Linked DNA regions of Homo sapiens: all the other regions are reported to be linked to region 3. The links are microRNA targets in miRTarBase. Many come from high-throughput screens and were not tested one by one. Region 3 holds a microRNA gene; each other region holds the end of a gene's coding sequence.
The links. Region 3 holds the annotated microRNA hsa-miR-3977 (GUGCUUCAUCGUAAUUAACCUUA, at 3,565-3,587, shown strand). A microRNA usually pairs through its seed, bases 2 to 8, with sites in the 3' UTR of a target mRNA and lowers its output. Matches are read on the target gene's strand: a 7mer-m8 pairs with bases 2 to 8, a 7mer-A1 pairs with bases 2 to 7 and ends in A, and an 8mer does both.

Region 1: the mRNA of MCU is a reported target of hsa-miR-3977. Seed matches in the 3' UTR shown: 7mer-A1 at 2,187-2,193.
Region 2: the mRNA of SPOUT1 is a reported target of hsa-miR-3977. Seed matches in the 3' UTR shown: 7mer-m8 at 640-646.
Region 4: the mRNA of CNRIP1 is a reported target of hsa-miR-3977. The part of its 3' UTR that is shown has no 7-base or 8-base seed match.
Region 5: miRTarBase lists LAMTOR3 as a target of hsa-miR-3977. Seed matches in the 3' UTR shown: 7mer-A1 at 3,957-3,963.
Region 6: miRTarBase lists COLEC10 as a target of hsa-miR-3977. The part of its 3' UTR that is shown has no 7-base or 8-base seed match.

Annotation. Positions count from the first base shown.
Region 1 is chr10:72,885,365-72,889,364 of GRCh38, forward strand. It overlaps MCU (mitochondrial calcium uniporter), which reads left to right. Exons shown (of 8, transcript NM_138357.3): 8 at 381-2,330. The coding sequence ends at 458. Among named protein-coding and RNA genes, the nearest start is that of OIT3, 6.4 kb to the right of the region's middle. RefSeq lists an enhancer at 1,647-1,941.
Region 2 is chr9:128,819,008-128,823,377 of GRCh38, reverse strand. It overlaps SPOUT1 (SPOUT domain containing methyltransferase 1), which reads left to right. Exons shown (of 12, transcript NM_016390.4): 12 at 545-3,727. The coding sequence ends at 613. ENDOG (endonuclease G) reads right to left here. Exons shown (of 3, transcript NM_004435.2): 1 at 4,193-4,370; 2 at 2,530-2,639; 3 at 702-1,050. The coding sequence ends at 768. KYAT1-SPOUT1 (KYAT1-SPOUT1 readthrough) reads left to right here. Exons shown (of 25, transcript NR_182311.1): 25 at 545-3,727. Among named protein-coding and RNA genes, the nearest start is that of ENDOG, 2.7 kb to the right of the region's middle. RefSeq lists enhancers at 3,875-3,964, 3,915-4,370.
Region 3 is chr5:82,836,593-82,841,681 of GRCh38, forward strand. MIR3977 (microRNA 3977) reads left to right here and starts at 3,563; the gene lies at 3,563-3,632.
Region 4 is chr2:68,290,104-68,295,192 of GRCh38, reverse strand. It overlaps CNRIP1 (cannabinoid receptor interacting protein 1), which reads left to right. Exons shown (of 3, transcript NM_015463.3): 3 at 1,167-2,183. The coding sequence ends at 1,331. The region is part of intron 1 of PPP3R1-AS1 (PPP3R1 and CNRIP1 antisense RNA 1); the gene reads right to left. Among named protein-coding and RNA genes, the nearest start is that of CNRIP1, 27 kb to the left of the region's middle.
Region 5 is chr4:99,877,769-99,882,857 of GRCh38, reverse strand. It overlaps LAMTOR3 (late endosomal/lysosomal adaptor, MAPK and MTOR activator 3), which reads left to right. Exons shown (of 7, transcript NM_021970.4): 7 at 791-4,522. The coding sequence ends at 864. Among named protein-coding and RNA genes, the nearest start is that of LAMTOR3, 14 kb to the left of the region's middle.
Region 6 is chr8:119,105,441-119,110,529 of GRCh38, reverse strand. COLEC10 (collectin subfamily member 10) reads right to left here. Exons shown (of 6, transcript NM_006438.5): 6 at 2,075-4,730. The coding sequence ends at 4,339. Among named protein-coding and RNA genes, the nearest start is that of COLEC10, 41 kb to the right of the region's middle.

The DNA.
Region 1 (4,000 bases), not on the chromosome of region 3:
CTAAAATCTTGAGTAGCATAAAGTTCTGGCTCTTAGCCCTTGTGAAAGGGCTTCTCACTGGAGAAACACCATCAAGATGTATGTCTCAGATGCTCCTTACATTCTTAGCCTCTGAGTCCTACCCTGTTGATAGCACTGATTTTTCTGGAGGCTTTGTTGAGGGCTGAAACTGCCAAGGATGGCTTCCATTTTGGATTCACCCTTTGTTGTCCTATGCCGTGAGTTAAAATGCTTTGTCTTTCAAGGCACTCTTATTTTGAGAGTTATTGAGATGATCTCTCTGACTTATAGTAATGGAGAACAGTTTCCTTTTCTTGGTAGACAGTAATATCATTGAAAGCTTCACTAGCCAGTTTTCTCACCTTTTGTTTCTATTTTAGGCAGAAATGGACCTTAAGAGACTGAGAGACCCATTACAAGTACATCTGCCTCTCCGACAAATTGGTGAAAAAGATTGATCTGCAAAAAGCCTCTGAATCCTGGCAGAAGGAACACCTGTTTGCCTTTTTAATTAAAGCATTGCAGGTGGAAGCTGGGAGCCATGTGGGGGGTAGAGCGTTTTTACCTTTAATTATAAAACAAAAACAGAAAGGATCTGAGGGAAGAAGGGAATGTTAAAACCTGAGGATCAGGCATTGTGGAATATAAGCTCAAAGGGCTTAGTGAATATTGTCTTAACCAAGTATCTCAGTTTCTGGATGAAAATGATGCAGTTATATAGTTGAGAGATTCATAAAGAGAAAACAATGCTGGGGGTGTTCGTTTCTTGCATCTTCTTTGCAGAGTCAGCAAAAGAGTAACACACCAGCACCCCACTCGACTCTATTTGTTTTTAATTTAACTGTCCCTATTTTTGACATAGGAGTAAATAAATATACTAGAAAAGCAAATTCTCATGATATGCTAAAATATCATTAGCATTTATTTTAAATTGGACCCAGTCTCTGCAGAGTTACCAGGAATCTTTCCTTCCAGCATCCCTTTACTGACCACCTACCTGTACCTCTTGGTTACACTCATTTTTTCCATTTGATAATTGGAACCAACTTATAACTGTTTAATAATTGACACTTTAGATTATCTCTTAATACCTTCTTAAATGTCTATATATCCCAGTGCTCTGGATCAGTGTCTAAAAATCACTGGCAACACTGCATGAGGTTGTTGGTTTTGTTTTGTTTTATTAATTAGTCTTTCACAGGAGGAATAATTGCCCTCCTTTATATACTTATCTATTGATAATCCCCTCTCCCTCCAGAACACAAATCAGAGGGAAAGGGGGTGTTCAGCTGTACTACCAAATCAGGAAGATGTAAGGTTTACAAATTGGCTAAGAATCATGGCTCTGTAGCCATTTCAACCAGAATAATTTTATTGCTAATCTGCTTTGTGTGACAGCATTCCAGGCCAGCCAGATGGGACTGCCTTGTCTGGAGGCTTTGTTCATCTCGAAGGACACACACTTCCACACTGTTTGTGAGCCCTCCCACCTCCACAACTTCAGTTGTAAATCAAGTGTGTGGATCTCAAAGGGTGCAATTTATCTTTATATAGGAATACATTTCTAGGGCTTCCTTCAAGCCCACTCTCTTCACCCTATTTTTTCTTATCTTAAATTGAGAGAAAGAGAATTAATCTTATACTTTGTCAAAACATTTTCTACCATATTTCCAGATGACATCTGCGCTTGAAGAGTCAAAGGAATCTGTGTCTAATATCCTGTTTTTAACTGCTGTAGGGGCAGGATGGAAAGGATGATGGGGGCTGCCACACCACTGATTGGCCTTTTCTTTCACGTGATTCATCCTTCCTCATTGTGGCAAGGAGTTTCTTTCTCTTTTTCTTCCTCCTTTGGGATCATTGTGTATGAAAAGAAAAACTTTAAATGACAAACCCAGACTCCAGGTGCCTTGCAAAGGTTGAAGGCCAGCCAGGATTGCTGCTGCTGCTGCTACTCCTGCCAACACCCCTTTCATTGGCATGACGGAATGAAAGGATGCATGTCTCCACTTCCTGACCCTCCGCCCACTTCCTTCTCCCTCCACCACCCCCAGTCGTCAGCTCCTTCCCTCATTTATTTTTGTTAAGTTGTGTGAATTATTTTTAACCCATTTATCCTGTTTGTGCATAGGGTTTTTAAGAAGAAACAGCACAGTGCAACGAGCAAATCTTTTTGGGGTGTGTGGGAAGCAAGGGAGGGAGGACATGGAGAAAAGTTCTTTAAACAAATAGCAAACTATTGAACATGTGTAAAATCCTGTATCATTTATGAAATATGTATAAAAAGCAATGTACCTTCTGGAACAATAAATACTTATTCAATTTTTGAACGATAGCATCTCATTCTTTAAAACAAAACCAGAAAAACTACATTTCCTGTGATTCTAGGTGGGAAGTTTTTTACTTCTAAAATTCATTTTTATAAAAATATCATTATCAAATTAAGCTCTTCCTTAAGCCTATATTTCAAAAATAGGCATTTCACTAGTTCTTCCTGAACCTAAGATAATCAGTATTTTCCTAATTTTCCAGAGCCACCAAGAGGTTGAGTGACCTGTACAACCGTTAATAAAGTCAGCAGCAGCAGTCTCAGTGAGCCTGAATCCTCATCTCCTGATTGACAGGAAAAATCTCTGTGGTATCAGATCACCTGGATTGCCCAGTGCTATGGGCTCCTGGACTCAAGAAAATTGTTCAAAGACGCACCAAAATTAAGTATTCATTATTTTCAGAGTTTGTATCAAATTTACAGTGGTAGCCAAACAGGAAATATCACATGCTGCCAAGATCACCACAGGCATATTTAAAAACTTGTATTAAATATCTGGTTGCTGGAGTGCAATATGAGGTGCTGTTCAAAGAGCCTCTGTAGCTGTGGTCCTGCCTTCTGGCAGCTTACAGCAGCCTAACGCAGACAACCCTTACCCCCATGTAAAGTGTAAGAAGGTAAGGTTTGACAGAGCAGAAGCATCGCCATCTTGGACAAGCACTGCCATTTTAAGTTCTCCCAATTAAAAACCGCCTAAATCCAGCCCAGAAAACATCAGCCTAATGGCTAATGTCAGCATGACCATAAACCATAAATGACACCTTAGACCAGAAACTTTCCAACCCTGAGATAAAGCCCCCTCTGACCAGAGACATCCCAGCCCCGAGATAACCTCCCCTCCGAACAGACATTCCACCCTTGAAATAAAATTCTCCTCCACCCAGAAACACTCCGAGCATGCGATAAGCTCTCCCTTGCTAAACCCTTAAGTACCCTCAGTCTGTAAGACAGAATGCTCCTGATTGAAATCAGCCAGAATACTCCCCAAAATAAACCTGTCTTTGACTATTGAGCCACTTCTTGTGTTTCCTCCTTCTTTCTTCAACTCTTACAAGGTTGAAAATATTAAGTCGTTTTTTGCATTCAACAAATGGTATCTACATACTTCACACATTCTGTTAAGCTTTGCAGGGTTGTGTTTGTTTTGGTTAGGTTTTTTAAGGAAAATGAAAACATGATTCCTGCCTTTAAGGAGCTTACAATTTGAAGTTTAAAGCAGGAGTATCCAATCTTTTGGCTTCCCTGCACCATACTGGAAGAAGAAGAATTGTCTTGGGCCACACATAAAATACACCAACACTAATGATAGCTGATGAGCTAAAACAAAACACAAAAAACCCTCAATGTTTTAAGAAAGTTTACGAATTTGTGTTGAGCTGCACACGGCCTGCAAACCATGGGTAGGACAAGCTTAAAGTATAGTGAACAACAAAGGAAACCTTATTAAAAAATGGGCAAAGGAGTTGGACAGTTCTCCAAGAAAATATATAAATGGCCAATAAACATGAAAAGATGCTCAACATCACTAATAAGGAAAGGTAAAACTACCATGAAATACCACTTCACACCCATCAGAATGGCTATTATCAGAAAAAGCAGAAAATAAAACGTTGGTGAGAAATTGGAACCCTTGGTACTCCTGGCGGGAATGTAAAATGGTTCATCTCCTGT
Region 2 (4,370 bases), not on the chromosome of region 3:
CCCACGGGGGAAGCCACGTGCAGCTGGAGCCTTCGTCCTGGCCTCATGGAACCTGTGTACCCACTTTTGGGGTCAGGCATAGGACGCTGTGCTACGGGAACTCTGCTGGGAAGGCTGGTACTCCCATCAGTCTCGCCGGGCCGACAGCCCTGTCTACCCATCCCTAAGGCCTTGCCCAAGCCGAGCACTCTGAGCCTGACAGCCATACCCCCCAGCAGGAACCCTGGCTGCCACCCTTCCAACCCCTGCACGAGGGGTGAAAACTTCTTGCCCCTCTTCTTGCCCTCCCCTGGCCCTGGGAGGTGGGCGTTGTTACCTTCGCCCCCATTTTACAGAAGAGGAGCCTGAGGAGCAGGCTGTGTGGTCCTCCAGGTGGCAAGTGTGCAGTGTGAACCTGGGCCTGTCATTAACCTCACCAGGCCCTACTAAGGACAGGGGACCCCAGTGGGCCAGGTCTCGGGCAGCCAGGCACTGAAGACAGGCTGGGAGCGGGGGCACCCGCTAGCCCCCCAGGCCCCAGCCCACTGCCACGCTTCTCTTCCAGGAAGCCATCCTCATCTCCCTGGCCGCCCTGCAGCCTGGCCTCATCCAGGCGGGTGCCCGGCACACCTGAAAGTTCTAAGGGGCCGAGGACATCAGTGAAGCAGCAGTGAAACCAGGGGCTCTGCAGGTCACTTGGGACGGACGCCACCAGACTTGTCTCCAAAAATCACCACCTTTAATACTCCCCGGCCTGCACACACCCACAGTCTCACTGGGCTCCACCCTCACTTACTGCCCGCCGTGATGGCCTTGAGGCTGCCTGCCCGCGCCAGGATGTTTGGCACAAAGAGCAGCCCCGAAGCCCGCTCAATGCTCTCGATGGGCACCAGGAAGCGCTCCAGTGGGATGGCCTCATCCACAGGTGCGTTGGGCATCACGTAGGTGCGGAGCTCAATTTGCCCACCTGCTGCCTCCAGGATCAGCACCTTGAAGAAGTGTGTGGGCACTGCCACGTGGTTCTTGCCGATGACCTGGTACTTTACGTAGGATTTCCCATCAGCCTCTGTCCTGTGGGCAGACCCAGGCACACGTGGGCAGGGGGCCTGGATGAACCCAAAGCCACCTCTTCCAGGCAGCCTTCCCTGATCTGTCCTCTAACTTCTGTCAACCTGCAGGACCACGCCCTCACTGTGAGACTTCTGTAGCCTGCCTGGCTCCTCCTTGAGGCTGGAACTCTCTCCAGGGTGGTTAACTCTTTCCCTCTGTTTTCCTTATGCCCAACACTGGGTCAGGCAGAGTGGGCGACAATAAACGCTGCTAGGAGAATCGAGCCTTCTGAATATTCACATTCGTCTGAGGGGAGACTTAACGACTGTCCATCTCTCCCCACAGAGGTGAGCAACAAGTGGGCAAGGACCATGACAGGTGATATCCCAGCACCAGCACAGGTGCCAGGACACCGGACGGGGGCTCCCCCTCAGCAGAGTCTCCTCCCTTCCACCAGGCCCTAGGAGGCACCTGCTAATGAAATTTGATCAGTGCCCCAACCACCGCCTTGGCCAGCCTATGCCGAGCCCTTACCATGGACCAGGCCCTGGGGAAGCATGTGACATCAACCAAGAGGTCACAGGTTTTGCAGAGGGGGACACAGGTCATTTGCCCACAGCACCAAGGAACTAGGTGATGAGGCCTGGACTCCATCCCGAGCCTGTGGATTCCAGAGTGAGCTGCTCAGCCTGGACCTGTTGCCTCTCAGCCCCAGCCCTCTGCAGGCCAGAAAAACCACGGAGCACACCCAGAGGTGCTCAGTTGCTTCCACCTGAGAGGCAGGGCTGCACAGGAGCAAGAGTGGAGGCCCTGGGTCAGGCAGATCTAGATTCAAACTCCCGAGAAGGGTGGAGGGAAGTGCTCCAAGCAGAGCAGAGACTGAAGGCGGGAGAGCCTGGTGCACCGCGGACCTGCAGGGGGAAGGCATGAGAGCTCGGTGCACTGGGGACCTGCATGGGGAAGGCGGGAGAGCTCGGTGCACTGGGGACCTGCATGGGGAAGGCGTGAGAGCTCGGTGCACTGGGGACCTGCATGGGGAAGGCGGGAGAGCTCGGTGCACCTCGGACCTGCAGAGGGAAGGTGGGAGAGCTTGGTGCACCGCAGACCTGCAGGGGGAAGGCGGGAGAGCTTGGTGCACTGCAGACCTGCGGGGGGAAGGTGGGAGAGCTTGGTGCACTGCAGACCTGCGGGGGGTTCCATATTGGCAGAACAAGATTGGGTGGGCATGCCAAGAGGTGACAGCAGGGAGAAGCGGGGGCAGATTCAGGGCCTGCTGCTGCCCATGGGCAGAGGAGAGATGGTCAGGGGTACCCGACAGGTCTTTGGCTGTGGAGGTGGAATGAGGGGACTCGAGGCAGGGAAGCTGACAGGCTTGCCAAGAAACCAGATGAGTAGGGAACTGGTATTGACCCAGAGCCTGGGGCAAGCCTGGCCCTGTGAGTGGCAGTAGGGGCCTCAGGTGAGTGGGAGGTTCTGCCGCCCCCCTGGTTTCCACCTTACCTGGGCAGGAAGAGTGGCCCTGTGCAGACATAGACGTTTTGGTAGCTGCGGGTCAAGCTGCGGCTATATTTCTCCAGGTTGTTCCAGGCATTCTGGTTGAGGTGGGGCACCTGGTAGGAGAGATAGGGCTTAGCAGGACTGTGGCTGGGACCCTTCCTCCTCTATCAGAGGGCCGCCCCAGGTCCTGAGGGGATGGACAGGCTCAGAGATATCCAGTGAGACAAGCGGGGGGAAACTGAGGCTCAAGGAATGAAAGTCACTCCCTGAAACCCAGGGCTGATAGAGTGCTAGCCACCACCCTCTGTCCCTCCCACAGCCCAGGTGTCAAAGTCTTTTCTCAGCTCCCAAGAGTCGAATGAAGGAAGAGCCTGTCTCCACCTTTCAGAGAGGACTGAGGCCTGTCCCCAGCCCCACCCAGGGTCTCCTGGGAAGACCAGCCCTTCCAACTACCAACCCGTTCCTTTTCCCAGTCTGAGCCACAGGAAGAGCCTAGCGGGGAATGCCATGAATCGACCTCCATCCTGAGCTCTCCAGGCCTGGGACAATGGAAAGTGGATAGGGGGCTGTCTTCCCAGAAGGAAGCTGGGTCAGAGGTTGGTGCCCCATGGGCTCCACCCAGAGCCCCATGGCAGTCTCCATCCATTGGTGCCAGGACCTGCTGGGAACAGGCTGAGAGGGTGGTTGGCCCAGTGCACAGTGCCTGGCACTAACAACCTGATCGTGGGCCAGGTGTCTGCCTCGAAACTGCCTGAAGGCAGGCAGGGTAGGACAATGTCTGGAGGCTCACGGTTTTATAGACTAGGGGTCCCCAACCCCTGGGCTACAGACCGGTACCAGAACCGGGCCACACAGCAGGAGGTGAGCAGCAGGCGAGCAAGGGAAGCTTCATCTGTATTTACAGCCACCCCCCCATTGATCCCACAGCAGCCTGAGCTCCGCCTCCTGTCAGATCAGTGGCGGCTGGAGATTGTCATAGGAGCTGGAACCCTATGGTGAACTGCGCATGTGAGGAGGTTGCGCGCTTCTTTTGAAAACCTAATGCCTGATCTGTCGTTGTTGCCCATCACCTCCAGATAGGACTGTCTAGTTGCAGGAAAACAAGCTCAGGGCTCCCACGGATCCTACATTACTGTGAGTTGTATATTTCACTATATGTTACAATGTAATAATAATAGAAATAAAATGTACATAAATGTAACGCACTTGAATTATCCTGAAACCCGCCCTCACCCACCAAGCCGTGGAAAAACTGTCTTCCACGAAACCGCACCCTGGTGCCCAATAGGTTGGGCGCTGCGGTTCTACAACAGACAGCCTTCTTCTGCTGTGTGACACTGTGCCCGTCACTTTGCCTCTGTGAGCCTCAGCGCCTCATCACTACCGCAGGAGGAAGGTGAATAACGGTATTATCCCCATTTTTTTGACGAGGAAAGCGACGCTCAGGGAGGTGCCCAGGGTTCGCAGTTGAAGCTCAAGCCCTGGTCGGCCTGCAGACCCTGTGCCTGGAGCCCAGTGCTCCTCCCTCCCGCCACGGGATGTCACTGCGATGCCTGACCGGGGGCGCGTTGGGCAGCTGCCCCGTTCTGCAGAAGAACAAACCGAGGCCCCGCGAGGCCAGGCGCCGGCCCCGCATTCCGCGACCGGCCCGGGGCGCGGGCGCTACCTGGGGCGCGACGTTGCTCAGGTAGAACGTGTCGTCCATGGCCTTCTGGCTCCAGCGGTGGTTGGCGGCGGCGGCCAGGTGACCGCGGTCGAAGCCACTGCCGCGGTAGTCGGCGTTGGTGGCACGGTGGTACGCGTGCACCGAGTCGTCCTCGCGGAAGTCGCACTCGCGCCGGTCG
Region 3 (5,089 bases):
GGAGGAGGTGCCAGGCTGTTTTCAACAACCATTTCTCAGGGGAACTCTCATGGAAACTAATATAGTGAGAGCTCAGTACCACAAGGATGACACCATGCCATTCATGAGGGATCTACCCCCATGACCCAAACATTCCCATTAGGCTCTACCTCTAACTTTGGCATCAAATTTTAACATGCAGTCTGAAGGGTCAAATATCCAAACTATAGTCAGATAGATCAATAGATGAAAAAATTGGAAAATGGCCTAATAGCAAAGTTGTAATTTCATATTGTAAGCAATAGATGAGGGTAGCAGGTGGGGAGTGCATCTTGTCTTAGTCTGCTCAGGCTGCCATAACAAAATAGCAAACACCAGTATTTTTTACTTAAACAACAGATATTTATTTCTCACAGTTTTGGAGGCTGGGAAATCTGAGATCAAGGTGCTGATAAATTTGATTCTTGGTGAGGGTCCAATTCCTGGCTTGCACATGGTAATCTTCTCACAGTATCCTCACCTGATGAAGAGAAGACACCCTGGTGTCTCTTTTTCTCTTGTAAGGGCATTAATGCCATCACTAGGGGCTCCACCCTCATGGTATTATCTAAACCTAGCTATCTCTCAAAGGCCTCAATTTCTAATGCCATCACATTGGAGATTAGGGCATCAAAATATGGATGTGGGGGGCACACAAATGTTCAGTCTGTAAGATGGCTGGTGAGTTGGCCATGTCTTGTTAGAGTAATAGTTGACTATCCAGAATAGTTACCCTGTAGACAATTGCGTGCACCATCATAGTACTCAGCAAAGACTTACCTAAGTTCAGGATTTGGGTTTTTTAAGTCATCAACCTAAAGATCATGGTTTAAACCAAAGATGTACCTAAGGTGACACATGTAGACAGTATAAAGTGAACAAAGAAGAGGGCCAAAACCCCTGGATACTCCAAGGGACACAGAGAGAAAGGAATCTGCTTAGGAAACTAGAAGATTCTGTTAGAAAAGGAGGAGAAAGGGAATGTGGAATCAAAGAAGCGAGAGGAGTCAAAGATCAGGGAAGGGCTGAAAGATTAGCATGCAGCCACAGTCCTTCCTATTCGCCAACTATTTTGCTTACAATTTTGTTATCTGATCATTCCAGATGCTAGTAACCTGATGATAGAAAAATGCAAAAGTATCTTGACTCAGCCTGTTTTCAGTTCAGACTTTGCTACTTTTTGTGTCACTGTCAGAGGTGTTGGAACCAGAGCGACTCTATTTTGAGTGAGGGCTAGGAAAATGAGGCTGGGATTTGCTGGGCTGCATTTCCAGAAGGTTAGTCATTCCTAGCCTCTAGATGTCTATGGTTAAGGGAACAAATTAATAATGTTTGCTAAACAGACCCAGACTTGGGCATGTCCAGATATCCCGATATCTGGAGAACAAAGGCATTCCTAATTTTGCTTTAAAGATAATAATATTGATTCTTGCAAAATATAGTAATCAAGCAAATTAATCCTTTATCACAAATCCTTGTAGCAGAGCACATCTCCCCATATATACAAGTATTGTACTTAGGGTGGATGTGTTTCTCTTCTTACTTTCAGGAACATCCTACTCTGTCTATGGAGTAGACATTCTTTCACCACTTTACTCGCTTAATAAACTTGCTTTTACTTTGCACTGCGGACTCGCCCTGAATTCTTTCTTGCACGAGATCCAAGAACCCTCTCTTGGGGTCTGGATCCGGACCCCTTTCCTATAACATCTTTCTGGCAAAACCTAAAGGGACTACAGTGAGGAAACCTTTGACCCAAAGGCTAACTTTGGGTAAGTGGTGGGGTCCTGTAACATCTTTCTGGTGACACAGAAGGGACTATAGAGCAGAAACCCTGACCCAATGGCTACCTTTGGGTAAGTGCTGGGGTCCTGTAACATCACCATCAGCAAATCATTTAGCCCTTCAGGAATGCAGTGTTGTCACCTACAAATGGAAATATTTCTAGCCACATCTTCTCCTTCACAGGGTTGTTGTGAATATTGGGTAAAATCATACTGTGCAAAGTGATAATATTTCAAAAGTCTCCTGCTAAGCTGCAATACCTCAACTGAGAAGGGCTTATTATCACCCATAATCACATTCATGGATGACTAATTCTCATCAGCTTTCTCTCGGAGATGGAACATAAGCTCAAGTGATCTCAGGAAATGTCCATAGCAGGAAACACAAAGCTGGACATCAGAAGGACGCTGAGAAGACAGATGACAACAAAGGACAGGGGGTGTTGAAGAGGAAACTTGTCCAGGACCAGAATTACTGGGAACATGAATTTACAGCATTCCAAAGTCCTTACAGTTTAATGAAAGGAGAGGCAGTCCTTTGAACTCAAGTTTTAAAGATGTTACATTTAAAAGGCACATGCAACAGAATAGGCCCTTTCCAAGAAACAATAGCGTTTAAGTGCTGGCACAATTACCAGCAGGTTTTCTATGTTAAATATATATTCTGAAAATAGAAAGGACATTTCATACAACTTTTTCTTTAACCAAACAATCAAGAAGCAAGTGGTACAGCTCTCAGACCTTCAGATGACAATTACTGAACTCAGGGAAGAGAAATGTTTCTTCCCCTGGGACCTCTAAAATTACTGGTAACATGACTATGGAAAATGTGTCAAATAAACCAAAGCACCAACTTCAGAGACGGAAAGTCATTGGCTTTCCTGTGAAAATATCAAATATTTCACAGTTACTTGGCCAAATGTATGCTCACATTAGGTCAACAGAACATATTGTAATATTTTTCATTTATCCTGCTCTGCATGTATTATTAACATATTACAAATAAAATGAAAGTGATAGGTAGGAGAGAGTGCAGACTAGATGTCTTTATGGTCTAATTCGTTTTGATGAAGGCAGTTGCTATAAGGCACTTTCCCATTCAGGGGTTTAAGTCTTCCAGCCTTGGGCATAAGGAGCAGAAGAAATCCTTGGTGTAGAAATAAATGAAATAAAGAAAACAGGACTAAGGAGATGCTCTACCAAGTGGGGGATTCTAAGAGCCAAATTTTCTTCAATTTGTTTACTCATTCGTAAAAGGAATTCACACATCAATTATTGATTGAAACCCTTTAATGTGCCAGACACATGGAGGGGGACATGTTGCAGGGAGAGCAGGAGGGAAGTGGATGAGGCCTTTGCTCTTAGGAAGCTTCCAATCTAGGAGAGAAGACTTCTATTAAACAATAATTAAACAAAGCGCCACATCACTATTTGGATAGAGAATGGGTATTGAAGGGAGATGAACAGAAACTCAACTGGGGCTATAGATATCTACGTTAATGTCTTCAACCTCTTCCTTTCCTCAGATTGCTATATGCCTCCATGCTTTTGATTCTCTCTCTTCCTTTCCCTCTCTTCCAGTGTTCCACTGATTTTAGCAACAATTAAAAAAAAATCAAAAAAAAAAAAACAAGGAGTGGGGCAAGCCTTGGGTTGTGTGCCAGAAGCTGAAGAAACTCCTTAGCTCAGCATAGAATCAAATGCTAGCTTCTGTGGCAGCCAAAGTGAATCTATCAGACTAATGACATTCACAGTCTACATTGTGCTTCATCGTAATTAACCTTAAGTGGTTCGGGTAAATCACTTTAATTTGTTATGTGTTGGCAGAATCAAACTACTTTTTTTGCTTCTTCTTTGCCTTTTAGTTTAATCTTGTTTATCATCAACATCATAGCTTATGCTAGGAAATTATCAGTGGAAGCCCCTGTTTTCTACTATCTGAAATTCCTTCCACAATGGAAAGAAAGGGGAGTGGTGTCTTGCATCTCAACATGATAGCTGGCATGAATGAGAGTGAAGAGCCTCTTTCCAAGCAGTTTTTGTGTTTTTAATTTCACATTCTTTTACTTGAAGAGGGCCCCCAAATCTTGGATCCACCCTTAAATGATATTAAGACTAAAAAAGTATATAACCCATAAGAATAAAAAATGTTGACTAAAATAGATTGATATCATATCAGTGGGACATCAGAATAAAAGACATATTTGTGTGTGAGACAGAATAATAAAGGGAAGAAAAGGGCATAGAAATAAACATAGCTGGGCTGAGCGCAGTGGCTCATGTCTATAATCTCAACCATTTGGAGGGCTGAGAGAGGAGGATCCCTTGAGCTCAGAAGTTTGAGACTAGCCTGGGCAACATGTTGAGACCCCATAGCTACAAAATTTTTTTTAAAAAATTAGCCTGTAGTGCCAGCTACTCAAGAGGCTGAGGAAAGAGGATCACTTGAGCCAGGAGGTTGAGGCTGCAGCGAGCTGTGATCACACCACTGCACTCCACCCTGTATACAGAGCAAGACTCTGTCTCAAAATAAATAAGTAACTGGTTTATTCTACCTTTGGTTGGGATGGAGCATTCTTCAAACATTCAATGAATATTTACTGTGCACTCCTATGTGCCAGGCACAGTTCCAGAAAAATGAGATACATCAGGAAACAAAACAATCAATAATGCCTACCTTGTGGAGCTTACATTCTAACAAGGGAAGATAGACAATAAACACTAAGCATATTAAGTAAGCATATATTGCATTAGAAGGTGATAAGCATAATGGGAGGATTGGGAGTTTGGGGTAAGGACATAGAAGATTTGAAAAACACAATCAACCAACAAGATAGATGCCATACTCTGTATATGAATACTCCACGCAATAATAGCAGCAGTCACATTTTTTTCTTGCACCCATAGAATTTCAAGATAAACAATATCCTGGAAAATAAAATGAACTTAGATAATTAAAAAGAGAAGGAAGACATTTGGCTTTTACTGAGAATGAACTGAGGCTCATTGTAGGGTGTTGAACAAAAGGGACCTTGTAAGGCTGTTCTGGCTATTGCATTTCCTCTTGTTGGGGAAGAGAGGCACAAAGCTAGAGGCTAAGAGAACAGTTAGGAGGCTGTTGCCACCACCTGAGTGAGAGATGGTGGTGGTTTGGGGTCAAGGTCTTAGCTTTGAAGGCAAAAAAGAGTAGCCTGATTGTGCTAACTTCAGGGAAGTATAATACAAAATTGTTTTAATATTGCTATCATTTGAAATAATAGGGGGAATAGTAACACACCGCATCTCAG
Region 4 (5,089 bases), not on the chromosome of region 3:
CACTGCCTTCCTCTGTCCACGTCTTCTGGCTCCAGACAAGTCTAAGAGTCCTGCCAAGTCAGTCCCTGTCCCCTCCCATGACAGGGGAGGGTCAGAGGAGAAAATAACGACAGGCATCATGCAGTTTAATGCCAGATCCCCTAAATAGCTCCAGAAGGCAGTAGCAGGGTCAGGCTACCCCACAGGCCACTTGAGCATCTGCCCAGTGGCCTCCAGGGTATTCCAGGTACTCTTCTCAGCTGCAAGAGAAATGTGTACTTTATACCTCAGGAGAGTTCTGTGCAGTGATTTACAGGGCCTACCTTCTGGAAGTAGAATGCTAACTTCTTAAGAGCAACAATCCTGCCTTATACGAATTTTTATACATGCAAGGTACATAGCAGATACTCAAATATGGTTCTGGGTAATGTATAATCTAAGCCCAAGATGTAGGCATGGACTCCTGACTTATAAGTATTCAATGTTTAATAGTTAAAATATGGCCTTTAACACTTCCAATGAAATATTTTCAGTTATCACTTTGAAATATTTTTCTTTGGAATTGAAACTAATGATGGAAATTTTATGTAGATGTATTGTAGACAGGTTGTTTTGTACCATTGTATTTTGAGAAAAGCCAGTAAACTTTATTCCTTCTCTTCCCTTCGCCATTCCCCTTCTGTAGCAGGGACCATTTGGGGGATGAACATGGGGGTTTGTTTTAGAGACAGAATCTTGCTTTGTTGTTCAGGCTATTCTGGAACCCCTGGCTTCAAGCTAGCATCCTGCCTCAGCCTGGGATTACAGGGGTGAACCACTGCACCTGGCCAGCAGGGGCCATTTTAGAGTAAGCTTTAAAATTCTAAGTTTTCAAAAAATTAAACTTGAAAAACAAGATAAACTTTGCAGTTATTTTTATTAAAAGCAATATGATAGCGAGTGGCACGTTTGCAATGGGAATCAGATTTTATAGAGAAGAATGGTTTACAGACAGCTTTTTAGGAAAATATCTCCCATCATAAAGGAGGGAGCTAGACCACTAAAGGAAAGCCTTCCGAGCCTTGCAGACCAAGAGAATCTGGACTGGGTCTGCTTGATTATCCAGGAGCTACATCACTAATGTTAGCTCTCATCTATTGCTCGTGGCAGAATGAGGTTTTTTATCAGGCATGTTTCTCTTCCCTCAGTTCACAGACATTGGGACCTTCGAGACAGTGTGGCAAGTCAAGTTCTACAATTACCACAAGCGGGATCACTGCCAGTGGGGAAGCCCCTTCTCTGTCATTGAGTATGAATGCAAGCCCAACGAGACACGCAGTCTGATGTGGGTGAACAAGGAGTCCTTCCTCTGAAAGTGGCTCTTTCTGATGCTACTGGACAATCTTTTCAGAAATCTACTTTTAGATAAACCAGCGCAGGCCTTAAACAAGGCATGCCACACCATTGCTGTTCCCCATCTGGTACTAATGACCTACTAGCCCTGGTTATTTTGAAAGTGTAATTCCCCTCTGACACAATATCCCTCACATACAAGATGGTGATGTACCACTCCCGAGAATATTCCCATCTGTATTTTGTGCTGATGTTCCTGCATCCAGTTGTTCTCGGTCATACTTTTGACCACTTGTGACTGGAGTTCAGTGGCCCTGGCAGGCTTGTCCTGCTCTTGACCATTCCACTGACTAACTTTGGTGTTTTGTTTCCAAGTTAAGTGATTCCTCCTTTTTTTTGTTCAATGTTAAATTTAAAAATAACAATGTGTATGGGTCCTCCCATGTGTAATATGGTAACATGTAACTTGCAGTGTTTGCCAGCTTTCAAAGCAGGCTTTGTGAAAATGTAATACAAACAGCAGTGAATGGGACTCAAATGTTGTGCTTCCTATAAACAGCTCCGCTCTTTCAGGGAAGGATGGTAACAAACTAGAAGGACAAATATGTACGTATTTATAACGTATTAAAACTCTTTTAAGTAGCTTAAGGTATTGTGCAATGGCCTAGCCTAGTAGAAATGGGGGAAAAGCATTGCTGTGGACCATTGTTAAAGTGACAGGAGTTGTAGGGTTACCCCTTTGACAAGCTTCCATAGTCTTCAGACACGCACATTGATGGCATCCCTACAGTCTTCTTCACTTGAACTTTGTAAAACTGCATATGGACCTGTAATCAACTTTTGATATTTCTTAATAAAGGCGTTGAAAATCATGCCCTGACTTGCATTCTTAATTTGGGCAATAATTATCTAGCAGGTGAATCCCTGCTCTAGGCCAGCTTCACTCAGGCCTGTATGCTACAGGATGACGGGGATGTATCCGGAGTAGAATTAGCACACCTATTCATGAATCAAGCCTGACCTTTTAGCAGGATTGCTCCAGCCAAGTTTAACAGGGCTAGCACAGGCCCAGGTGCTTGGCGGGCAATCAAAAAATGCTTGTACCTATCTCGCTCCATTACTCTTTCTGTGGTGACCCCTCCCCAGTTGGTGAGCTATGTGACTCAGTAGCAGGAGAGCAATGGTGCTATAATAGTGTGTGTACATCATGGTTGAGGCCTCCTTGCCTACTTCCAGCACCTTGCACAAAGCCCATATACCATACAGTTTAAGGATAAATTCCATAAGAAGGAAGTGAACTTCCTCTTGAAAAGTAACATGCTATTTTCCAATAATGTAATATTTACTTGGGCAGCACAAATCCTATAGTATTGGAAAAAGTTCGTTGGGGATTGTTTGTTTTTGCTACCTGTAAACCCTTCTTATAAGAAAATGCAAGCTACTGGGAGTATTTTTAAAAGTTGATTCATTGTAGAACTGAATTTGAAAGGCTGGCACTCAACACCTTTTCTACCTCCAAATCGCTTACCTGCAGTGATGCTGTACAGCCACCAGGGAACAGCAATGCCTTGCCTTTGGGGATCATAAATGATGTTAAAGGAGTGTAACATGTTTCTCAATAAGCTTGTGTTTTTTGTTTGTTTTTTTGTTTTTTTTTAAAGTCTTCATTACAATTGCTAAAACGTAAGTACTAACCCATTCCTAATGACTATTTTTTAAAACCAACACTCAATTATTTGAACAGACATTGAGATATTTAAAACAATGGATTTACTACAGAGGTTTTTCTTCCAGAATATCCAATAGAAATGCAGAGTGAATAAAAGATTTAAAATAAAAAGTGGGAACTACACAATTTAATATTTACTAATTTGATTAGTAAATATTTTCACTGGTGAAACAGGTTTTCAAGCCAGGGACTAGAGCTTGAGTATTTGTGTTGAGGGTGGAGACATTATCATGACTTTTGCAATAATCCACTCTTTTTTTTTTTTTTTTTTTTTGAGATGGAGTCTCACTCTGTCACCCAGACTGGAGTGCAGTGGCATGATCTTGTCTCACTGCAACCTCCACCTCCCAGGTTCAAGCAATTCTCCTGCCTCAGCCTCCTGAGTAGCTGGGATTACGGGCGTGTGCTACCACGCTCAGCTAATTTTTATATTTTTAGTAGAGATGGGGTTTCACCATGTTGGTCAAGCTGTTCTCAAACTCCTGACCTCGTGATCTACCTGCCTTGGCCTCCCAAAGGGCTGGGATTACAGGCGTGAGCCACTACGCTGGGCCCATACTTTTTTTTTTCTTTTTTAACTAAAGGCTTTATTTAGAGTTTGAAATGAGTCAAAGCAGACTTGGAGGAAACATGTCCTGGGATAGCTGCGCTGTTATCAGTGTCCCACAAACGAGCCAGAAGATGAGCCCTGGCAGAGCACCTGGAGCGTGGGAGTCCTGCTCACATCCTGGATGGTCACCACACCTTTCTCTGCCTCAGTTTGCTTATCTCTAAAATGAAGGGTTAGACTAGTAGAATTCTGAAGCCTTTTAAGAGTTATGGTTTGTTCCTCTATTTTATACTCCTTTAAAAAAAAAAGGGGAAAGTGTGTGTGCATATCTGTCTATGTCGTATGTGTATGTGTTTCCTTAGGGCCAGAAGTAAGGTTGAATCAAGGGAGTTGGGGAGGAGATGGAGATGAAGTAACAGAAAAACTTAACAGCTAATCTGCACGTTAAGTGATCGCTCCTGGCATATACTGTTCTACTTATGATTGGGCTCCAGCCCAGTCTCTCTGGCTACTTCTCACATAGCTCTCCTCCTACTCCAAAATTTGAGTGCTCAGCTATATCGAGCTGCTGAGTTGTAACTTTGCCCCTCAGCCATCTGGAAGGGCTATTTTTATACAAGTTGTAGCCACGTCTCTCTACCTCCAAGCATCAGATGGCTACCCAGAAGCTTGAGGAACTAGGCCATCCTTCCAATTATGATGATGACTAAAACACTTTTGAACAGGTGGAAGAATAGAAATGCCTTGAGTTTATATTTTGTGACACCTCGCTTACTGAGAAGTCACTTATCCAGCCATTTAAACTATCTGGATCACAGTTAAGAACAGAAAACATGCCAAAAAATAAAGATCCCTGTCACAGATGTCACCAAGTCCATTCACTAAAGGCTCGGGTCTTCTCCCAAGGCCTCTTGACTCCTGTTTTAGACACAATTCTAACATGTGGGGTGATCTGGTTTCTGACTCTTATGAAATTGGAAGTAGAACATGAAAGGGAAGAAGACAATTTGTAGAGGCAGATATACTGAAAATATTCTTTTTTTTTCAGAGAGGACAGAGAAAACTATAAAAAGCAGACAAAGTAAATCAAAAGAACAGTAGATGGGGACAACTGTATCCTGTAGGTACATAAATAATCCTGTATTAAACCACAGTAGTTTCTGTATATATCAAATAAAAATTGATAAGCCTAATGATATTCCTGATTCATTTAGAAAGAGGGCCCATTATCATCAGTAATGTATCATGGTTCAGTGTTTAAAAGCTCAGATTCTCCACCAAGCGCAGTGGCTCACGCCTGTAATCCCAGCACTTTGGGAAGCTGAAGCGAGTAGATCACTTCAGGTCAGGAGTTCAAGACCAGCCTGGCCAACATGGCAAAACCCCGTCTCTACTAAAAATGTAAAATTTACCCAGCATGGTGGTGCACGCCTGTAATCCCAGCTACTTGGGAGGCTGAGGAAGGAGAATCACTTGAACCCAGGAGGAGGAGGTTGCAG
Region 5 (5,089 bases), not on the chromosome of region 3:
TCTCCCAGGTTCATCATTGAACTCCAGTGTGTTTTGTACTCTACCATTTATTTTTAAAATATTTTTTCATTTGAAATATTTATTTATGTCTTAGCTTTGTCAAATTTATAAAAATAAATTTCTGATTTTCTTTGTTCAATATAGAAGCACCTATCTTTTGATATAATCTGTTAAAATTTGCTTAGAGACAAAAGTATGCTTTATTTAGTAAAAATCATATGTATTATTTCTGAGTCAAGGCAAATTTTGAAGCAGTAAGGTATAAATTAAGATTTTCCTTTCAAAACTCTTAACAAATTATAGTGCATATAATTTATTCTGTATTTCCTAATATATAAGTATTTTTCACTCATTCACTTTAGTAATAGATGCTGAAAATAAACTTATTAATGACTACAAAGTTTTTGGTTGCTTTATTTAGGGTTATAGTACAGGTTGAACATCCCTAATCCAAAAATTTGAAATCCAAAACATTCTAAAGTCTGAAACTTTCTGAGCACTAATATGGCATTCAAAGAAAATGCTCACTGGAGCATTTCATATTTGAGATTTTTGGGTTAGGGATGCTCAAATAGTAAGTATTGTACAAATATTCCAGAATTCAAAACACTTCTGATACCCAGCATTTTGGATAAGGGATATTCAACCTGTATTTTGTTTCAGTCATGGGAAATAAACTATGTTCTGATTTACTTTTGGTAACTATGTATTTTGGACATAAGGAAATCTGAGTTTCAGGCTTTGAGGAACATTTTTCTAACATGTAATTTTCTTAATCTCTTTATTTTAGGACTAATTGTCAGCCTAGAAAAGGAACTTGCTCCATTGTTTGAAGAACTGAGACAAGTTGTGGAAGTTTCTTAATCTGACAGTGGTTTCAGTGTGTACCTTATCTTCATTATAACAACACAATATCAATCCAGCAATCTTTAGACTACAATAATACTTTTATCCATGTGCTCAAGAAAGGGCCCCTTTTTCCAACTTATACTAAAGAGCTAGCATATAGATGTAATTTATAGATAGATCAGTTGCTATATTTTCTGGTGTAGGGTCTTTCTTATTTAGTGAGATCTAGGGATACCACAGAAATGGTTCAGTCTATCACAGCTCCCATGGAGTTAGTCTGGTCACCAGATATGGATGAGAGATTCTATTCAGTGGATCAGAATCAAACTGGTACATTGATCCACTTGAGCCGTTAAGTGCTGCCAATTGTACAATATGCCCAGGCTTGCAGAATAAAGCCAACTTTTTATTGTGAATAATAATAAGGACATATTTTTCTTCAGATTATGTTTTATTTCTTTGCATTGAGTGAGGAACATAAAATGGCTTGGTAAAAGTAATAAAATCAGTACAATCACTAACTTTCCTTTGTACATATTATTTTGCAGTATAGATGAATATTACTAATCAGTTTGATTATTCTCAGAGGGTGCTGCTCTTTAATGAAAATGAAAATTATAGCTAATGTTTTTTCCTCAAACTCTGCTTTCTGTAACCAATCAGTGTTTTAATGTTTGTGTGTTCTTCATAAAATTTAAATACAATTCGTTATTCTGTTTCCAATGTTAGTATGTATGTAAACATGATAGTACAGCCATTTTTTTCATATGTGAGTAAAAATAAAATAGTATTTTTAAAAATATAGTTTGAGCACTGTATAGGTCCTTTTTTTGTTCAGACTTTTTCCAAAAATCTAAACATAATTAATATACTCTTTCAGCCACATGAATAAATAATGAGTGTTTCTTGTAGGTATTGGTTTGGAGATTGTTTTACGGTAGTATGAACTGTTAACTGGAAAAGAAACCTGAGATTGCAGTCAGCCAAGATTGTGCCACTGCACCCCAGCCTGGGCAACAGAGACTCCGTCTCAAAAACAAAAAAGAAAAGAAACCAAGAAACCTCAGGCATGAACCTAATTTAATCTCCATGAAAGAGGTACTACAGTTCTAGAATATACCCTTTATGTTCAGGAATGCAGTCTATCATTCAGAGTTAATTTCTTTCTAGGCTCTTTGACAATCAGTTTTTCCCTGGATCAGTTCAGTACATATGCATTGAGCACCTGTGTGCCAGTCAGCCGAGCTATCACATTGCACAATTCTAAGAAGCACCATTCATGTCTCATCATATTTCTATGCTCTGGGAGTTGCCTTTCACATAGAATATGTGTGATTGTTATCCCTAGAATTGTGCAGTGAGGCAATTGGCTAGGTGCTGTGCTGCTTTTTCTTTCTTTCTTTTTTTTTTTAAGAGACAGAGTCTTGCTGTGTTGCCCAGTCTGGAGTGCAGTGGTGGCATGATCTTGCCTCACTGTAACCTCTGCCTCCTGGGTTCAAGCTGTTCTCATGCCCCATTCTCCCTTGTAGCTGGGATTACAGGCTTACACCATCGCACTTGGCAAATTTGTGTATTTTTAGTAGAGACAGGAATTCACCATGTTGGCCAGGCTGGTCTTGAACTCCTGACTTAAAGTGATCCACCTGCTTTGGCCTCCCAAAATGCTAGGATTATAGGTGTGAGCCACTGCACCGGGCCATGTGCTACTTTTTCTTCCTTCCATCCTTCCTCCCTTCTTCAGTGTAAATATGAGATTAATTTGTGATACCTTACTTTAAAGAACTTAGAGTTCAGTAAAGGAAGCAGGTATAGAAAGTGCTATGATAAAGCTATACATAGGATGGTATAGAACCACAGACTAGGGGCACTTAAAATGGGCAAGAAAATAGCCTTTGTAAATAAAATAGAGGCAAGAGATATAATGCTTTACCTGCAAAGAGCTATAAATACAGCCATGTACCATATAATGATGTTTCAGTTAGTGAAGGACCACATACGAGGGTGGTCAGAACAGCAGGCTATACCATATAGCCTAGGTGTGTAGTAGGCTATACCATATAGCCTAGGTGTGTAGTAGTAGGCTATACCATATAGCCTAGGTGTGTAGTAGTAGGCGATACCATATAGCCTAGGTGTGTAGTAGTAGGCTATACCATATAGCCTAGGTGTATAGTAGTAGGCTATACCATATAGCCTAGGTGTGTAGTAGGCTATACCATATAGCCTAGGTATGTAGTAGTAGGCTATACCATATAGCCTAGGTGTGTAGTAGTAGGCTATACCATCTGGGGTTCCTGTCAGTACAGTATGATGTTCACATAATGATGAAATCACCTAACAAAGCATGTCTCGAAATGTATCCACATTGTTACGTAACACATGACTGTAGTTAATTGTTACAATTGAAATACTAGATGTACTCATTGAAATCCAGAATTCCCATTATCTGGATTATTTAATATCGTTCAGGAAATTTTTGCCAGTGCAATGGTGCATGAAACAATGTCTTTTAGAAATGAGGTGGCCAGATTTCTATTTGCAGATAATAATTGTATATCTAAAAATCCTAGAAAAAGAAATGATAACAAATGGAGCTACTTAACCTTTACATGTTGAATGCTGCCACTGTTAAAATTTCTGAGGGGGTATAATAGATAAACTATCCCATAGTTCATCTGGAAAAATAAGGTGGTGAAAATTGCTAAGAAATTTTTGAAAGGGTAATGTAAACCTAGATTAACTGTTTTTGAAAGGTAGTACAGAACTGAATGCACAACTAGATATCAATGGTATGTACTCACCCAGAAAAAAGACTTCAGTACATACATGTGAGGGCTTAAAACATTGTTATAAAGACGGGATCACAATGGGAAAAGGATTATTCAATAAGTAGGGCAGGCATTCTCTATGCCTGCTAGGGAAGTGTGACTTGTTATACTCTTTATGTACAGCAATTGGCAGTCTGTGAAACTTTTAAATTCATATACATAACCTTTTGCCCTGCAATTCCACTTCTAGAAATTTATCCTACCAAACAAAGCACATAGATGTGCAAAAGTATGTATTTACAAGTATATTCTTTGCAACTTGGTAATGTCAAAGAATTGGAAGCAACCTAAATATCTGCCATAGGTAGGATAACCATATGCTTTGGCTTTTTGAACACTACCAGTTTATACCTGCTGTTCTTGGATAATTATTAATAGTGCTTTCATTCTCAATGTCTCACTTTAGATAATAAATTACAGAGGATTGGTGAAACTAATTTGCCCAATGGAAAAAGGAATGAAGAAGTGCTTTAGGTACTGAGATGAAAAGATCTCTAAGGCATAATAATGTTTATTGAGAAAAGCATGGTGTCAAACTGTATGGCATGCTACAATTGATGTATAAGAAGAAAAAATGTGTATGTATTCCTATTTGTTTGTATATGGTAGACTGTCTCTGAAGACATATATGGAAGAACCTGATCACATTGGTAGTCTCCAAGGAGCAGAACTAGATACCTGGGGGATAAGGATCCCAGGAGTGAGCCTTTTCATTGTAAACTTCATTGTACTTTGAGTTTTTAACTGTTCAAAAATAATAAAATTAGAAATAAAATATTTCAACAAACAATAAAATGGGATATTTGGGGAAGAAAGTTGTCTCAGGGCTCTCCAAAGAAGCAGAACCGGTTGGACATATGTGTATTTATTTCAAGGAAATGGCTTATACTATTGCGGGGACTGGCAAGTCTAACATCTGTTGGACGGGCCAGAAGACTGAAAAGTCTCAGGTAGGAGCTGAGGCTGCAGTTTCAGAGCAGAAGTTCGTCCTCTTGGAAACTTCAGTTTTGCTCTTAAAGCCTTTCAGTTGATTGGATGAGTCTCACCCACATTATGGAGGATTATCTCTTTTACTTAAATTTAAGGGATTATAAATGTTAAGTACATCTCCAGAATACATCCACAGCAGTACCTGGATTCATGTTTTAATAACTAGGCAATGTGTCCTAGCCAAGTTGATGCATAAAACTAACGTTCACAGTCCATTCCTAGTCAGCTTGGCACCTGTATGCATCTTTTTTGTTGTTTTTTGTTTTGTGAGACAGAGTCTCACTCTGTCACTTAGGCTTGAGTGCTGTGGCCTGATCTCAGCTCACTGCAACCTCTGCCTCCTGGGTTAAAGCGAGTCTCCTGCCTCAGCCTCCTGAGTAGCTGGGATTGCAGATGTGCACCACCACGCCTGGCTAATTTTT
Region 6 (5,089 bases), not on the chromosome of region 3:
GATTTTGTATCCTGAGACTTTGCTGAAGTTGTTTATCAGCTTAAGGAGATTTTGGGCTGAGACCATGGGGTTTTCTAAATACACAATTATGTCATCTGCAAACAGAGACAATTTGAGGTCCTCTCTTCCTATTTGAATGCCCTTTATTTCTTTCTTTTGCTTGATTGCTCTGGCCCGAACTTCCAATACTATGTTGAATAGGAGTGGTGAGAAAGGGCATCCTTGTCTTGTGCCCATTTTCAAAGGGAATGGTTCTAGCTTTTGCCTATTCAGTATGATATTGGCTGTGAGTTTGTCATAAATAGTTTTATTATTTTGAGAAATGTTCTATCACTAAATAGTTTATTGAGAGTTTTTAGCATAAAGGGGTGTTGAATTTTATCAAAGGCATTTTCTGCATCTATTGAGATAATCATGTGGTTTTTGTCATTGGTTCTGTTTATGTGATGGATTATGTTTATTGGTTTGCATATGTTGAACTAGCCTTGCATCCCAGGGATGACACCGACTTGATCATGGTGGATAGGCTTTCTGATGCTGGATTCGGTTTGCCAATATTGTATTGAGGATATTCACTTCAATGTTCATTAAGGATATTGGCCTGAAATTTTTGTTGTTGTTGTTTCTCTGCCAGGTTTTGGTATCAGGATGATGCTGGCCTCATAAAATGAGTTAGGAAGGAGTCCCTCTTTTTCTATTGTCTGGAATAGTTTCTGAAGGAATGTCACCAGCTCCTTTTTGTACCTCTGGTAGAATTCAGCTATGAATCTGTCTAGTCTTGAGCTTTTTTTTGGTTGGTAGGCTCTTAATTACTGCCTCAATTTCAGAACTTGTTATCAGATATAACAGACATTTACAGAACTTTCCACCCCAAATCAACAGAATATACATTCTTCTCAACACCACATTGCACTTACTCTAAAACTGACCACATAATTGGAAGTAAAACACTCCTCAGCAAATGCAAACTAATGGAAATCATAACAAACAGTCTCTCAGACCACAGCGCAATCAAGTTAGAACTCAGGGTTAAAAAACTCACTCAAAACCACACAACTACATGGAAACTGAACAACCTGCTCCTGAATGACTGACTATTGGTTGAATAACAAAATTAGGGCAGAAATAAATAAGTTCTTTGAAACCAATGAGAACAAATACACAACATACCAGAATCTCTGAGACACAGCTAAAGCAGTGTTTAGAGGGAAATTTATAGCACTAAATGCCAACAGGAGAAAGCAGGAAATATCTAATATCAACACCCTAACATCAAAATTAAAAGAACTAGAGAAGTGAGAGCAAGCAAATTCAAAAGCTAGAAGAAGACAAGAAATAACTATGATCAGCGCAGAACTGAAGGAGATAGAGACATGAAAAACCCATCAAAAAGTCCAGGAATTGAGGAGCTGGTATTTTGAAAAGACTAACAAAATTGATTTTTATGTATCTGCTTTGATTGCCCTATAACTCTAGTTATCTGCAGAATTGTACTGTGGCTGCCGTAAGTCACCTCCTCAACACTAATGCCTATGTGGACGTTTGTGAATTGAAAAACAAAACAGTGAACACTAAATTTGTAAGGCAAGTTGCTGTATCCAGCATCTCTGTTAATTAATCCTCATCTTTAACTTTGGAATGTAGTACAGATAAGTTGTTTGAGCCCCTGCTATCACAAGACCATTGTGGATGAACTTCCATTCAATACATGAGCAATGCACAGAAATTGGAGAAGACACTGCATTGGCAGTTTCAATCAGCAGGCTAATGGCATTCATTTATATGTGAGCTGATTTTGGTAAATTGCTTAGCTTCCTTGGGCCTCAGTAGTATCACTGGGAAGTGGCAGTAAAAATGACTGTTTTTCGTCCTTCACAGAGTTTATCAGAATCAAATGAAAATTGATATGTGAAGGCATTTTTTAAAGCACAACGTGCTTCACAAATTTGAGTTTTTGTAGTAATTTTAATTAAGTGTGTGGTGTCTTCAAAATTTCTTTCAGGCAAGGTTGCAGGATATAACTTATTTGTTGAAGTTCTGTTATCTCTCTTGGAAGCATCACAGACAACATGAGTCATTGAGAGAACTATTATTATAACATTCACAGTAAATAATAATAGCACTAACAGTGCACACAATAAATACTCATACTTTGGGGGCTTAGAACAAATCAGAACATGGATCCTTAACATGAAGTTGCCCGTAGGCAACATTTGCTGCATGTCTCTCCTTCCTCTCTTCTTACATATGAGCTTTATTTTCCTACAGGTGTTTCTAGGTTTTCATTCCTCATGATCTGGGATGGCTTTCTATCCAAGGATACTGGCGTTTGATGTCCTACTTTGTAATTTTTATTAAGCTTTTCTGCCTTTAAAGTGTCATGTACTATCATCTCAAAAGAGTTTAACTAGTAACCTGATAAATGTCAAACATATAACAAATTCCTATTATTAAGCTGAATTGAATATGGTATTAATGGGATATCTTGACTTTCATGTCATCATATCCTAATGACATTCTATTTGGTTAGAACCTTCTGAACCTTCCTCCAGAAGTAAGAAATGAAATGATCACAACTTTAGCTAGAAGACTTTTGACCTCAAATCTTTAATTTTAATTAATTTTTAACCCACTTAAAATTTGGGTTAAAAATTAATTAGTTGCCAACATATTAAAATATGAGCTTATGTTACAAAGTCCCAGCTTTCTGACTTCTCTTGAAATATCAGCACATTTAGCAAGATTGGGTCCTCCCTAGCACCAGCAGCAGCCACTGAGGAGCAGCTGGCTCCTTTGGAAGGGCAAGCTGTGCTCAGTGCACTAGGGTCCCCACGTGTTCCACTTCATTTAGGTAAGTCATCTGCCTGGCCCCTGTAGGATCTGAGTTTATGGCCCTTGTTGAACCCACAGAAATAACCTAATTAAGTCCTATCTCATAACCAGTTAGTCACGGGTGAAATCATGAACAGATGGTTTAAGGTGAACATATGTTGTTGATCTGTTTCTCTTACTTCATTAACCATTTTGCCAGCATTTGAAACAGTCTAATCATATGTCAGAAACCATAACTGGAGTAGAAGTTTATAGGGTGATAATCTAGAGTATCTTTGAACTGTTTATTTTTAAATTCCAAGTGAAAGCTGCTTTGAGGTTTGATCTACAGTTCAAGGTAGAATTTTACCAGCTCAGTAAATGTGAGTTCTAAGCATGTTCCGAATTCTGTGCCTCACACATTTCTGTGATGCCAGAGTATTAGAAGGGACATCTCCAGTAGGATTTCTATGACATATATTTATGAAGAGTAAAAGGCCTCCCATGAAATGTCACCATTAGTGATATGTTAGAGGCAAGGATGAGGGGGCCTGGAGATGATGTTGGTAGCACTTTGAAGCTTCCAGAATTTTCTTAAGGCTTCACAAACTCCTTCCCTCATTCCCTATGCCTAAGGTGAATAAAATTGATGCAGGTAAACCTAAGATAAATAAAAATGAAGTTAAGTTAATAGCAGTGGGCAATTTAGCAAGAGAACTATAACCAGTATTGTTTGTGAACAATTCCCCATTTTTTTCTTTTGATTTCAAGAGCTCCATTTTTCTTAAATCAAAGTGTGACTATATAGGGGCCTGAGATTAAGGTGTGAGCCTACAGAAAGGGGTTCAAAGCACCTACTTGGTATATGTTAGTGAAATCGATAGATCAGAAGCACAAAAAGAGTATTTATCATTCCACATGGTCTGAAACAAGACACAAAGCTAGAAGTCCCCCATATAAAGGTTTGGGGTTAAAGCATTTCTATGTCTGTGCCAACAAGGAGAACTTCCAAGTATAGCCATGGCCATAGGGTGTGACTGGTAAAAGATCTGGGCATCTTGGATTCAAAGATCTTATCATTGCTCACAGAAAGCCCTTGTACATGTCTGGCTTTGGGCCAGGGCAGGTTAGCCTAACCATCAACAACCTTCCTAATCATCACCAGTAAACTGGGAAATTATCCACTGGGATAGACACAGAGTGCTCTAGGGAGAGATGGTAGAGCAAATACCAAGAGAACAACTCATTTGACATATAGACAACCAACTATCTCGTGCACAATTAGTAATTAAAATTCTCTCTCAAGACCCATGTAACCTGGCGAGTTATTGGGTCAATAATATACCATGTGTGAAAATATGAAAATCATCACAAAAGAGCATGATGATGGAGGCTCCATACCTCAGTTTAGCATTTTCTAGCTATGTTGACTCAGATCAAATGTAGTACAATCAGGAAAAAAAGGATGGATAACAATAACTGTAATGACGGTCACAGGAAAATAGCAAATACGTAGGATGAGGGAAGTTACTTTTTCTTCTTGATGAACTCACAGACAAAGTACATGGTAAGATGGCACTCTGTGTCATTCCATCTGCCAGAGCTCAGCATCTCCACACAGTCCTCATGACCATAGGGGTCGCTGGGTTCCCCCTCATTCCAGTTGCTATAGTTCTGCAGTGGAGTGTTGTCTGTGAACATGTACTGTCCCTCCCTTTCAAGGTCATTCACGCCAATGAACACCCGAAAGAAGCCACTCTTGGCAACATAGTCAGCGATGAGTGTGTTGGCAGCTTCATCCTTGGGCATGGCTAGCATTCCACCCCGAATCCTGCAGTGGGTTAGGGATTCCCTGTAGTTCTTCTCTTCCTGCACGATGTAGTAGAATTTCTCTTCAGTTTCCCTAATCCCTGCTATCACTGCAGGGAGAGAAAAAGGAGTATCATTACGTATCTCAAAAAGATAAAAGGCAACAAAATTATATGATATTGCCAGATTTACATTTATTTATTCAATATTCAAGAATTATTTTTCAAAGCCCTATTATGAGGTAGTCACAGATTTAATTACCCCCACCTCTAGTTAGCAAATAGAGAACACATATCTACCGTTTGTTCTCCCTTCCTTTTCTCCTCAACTTCTCACACACCTGGCCAGCACAAAGTTGACAAAGACATGTTACATGAACTTTCAGCCAGCCCATCTCATACTATATTTCCCAACATAGTTTATGCTTTAGCTATACTGGTGGCTACATGAGCAGGCCCTTTTCTCTTAT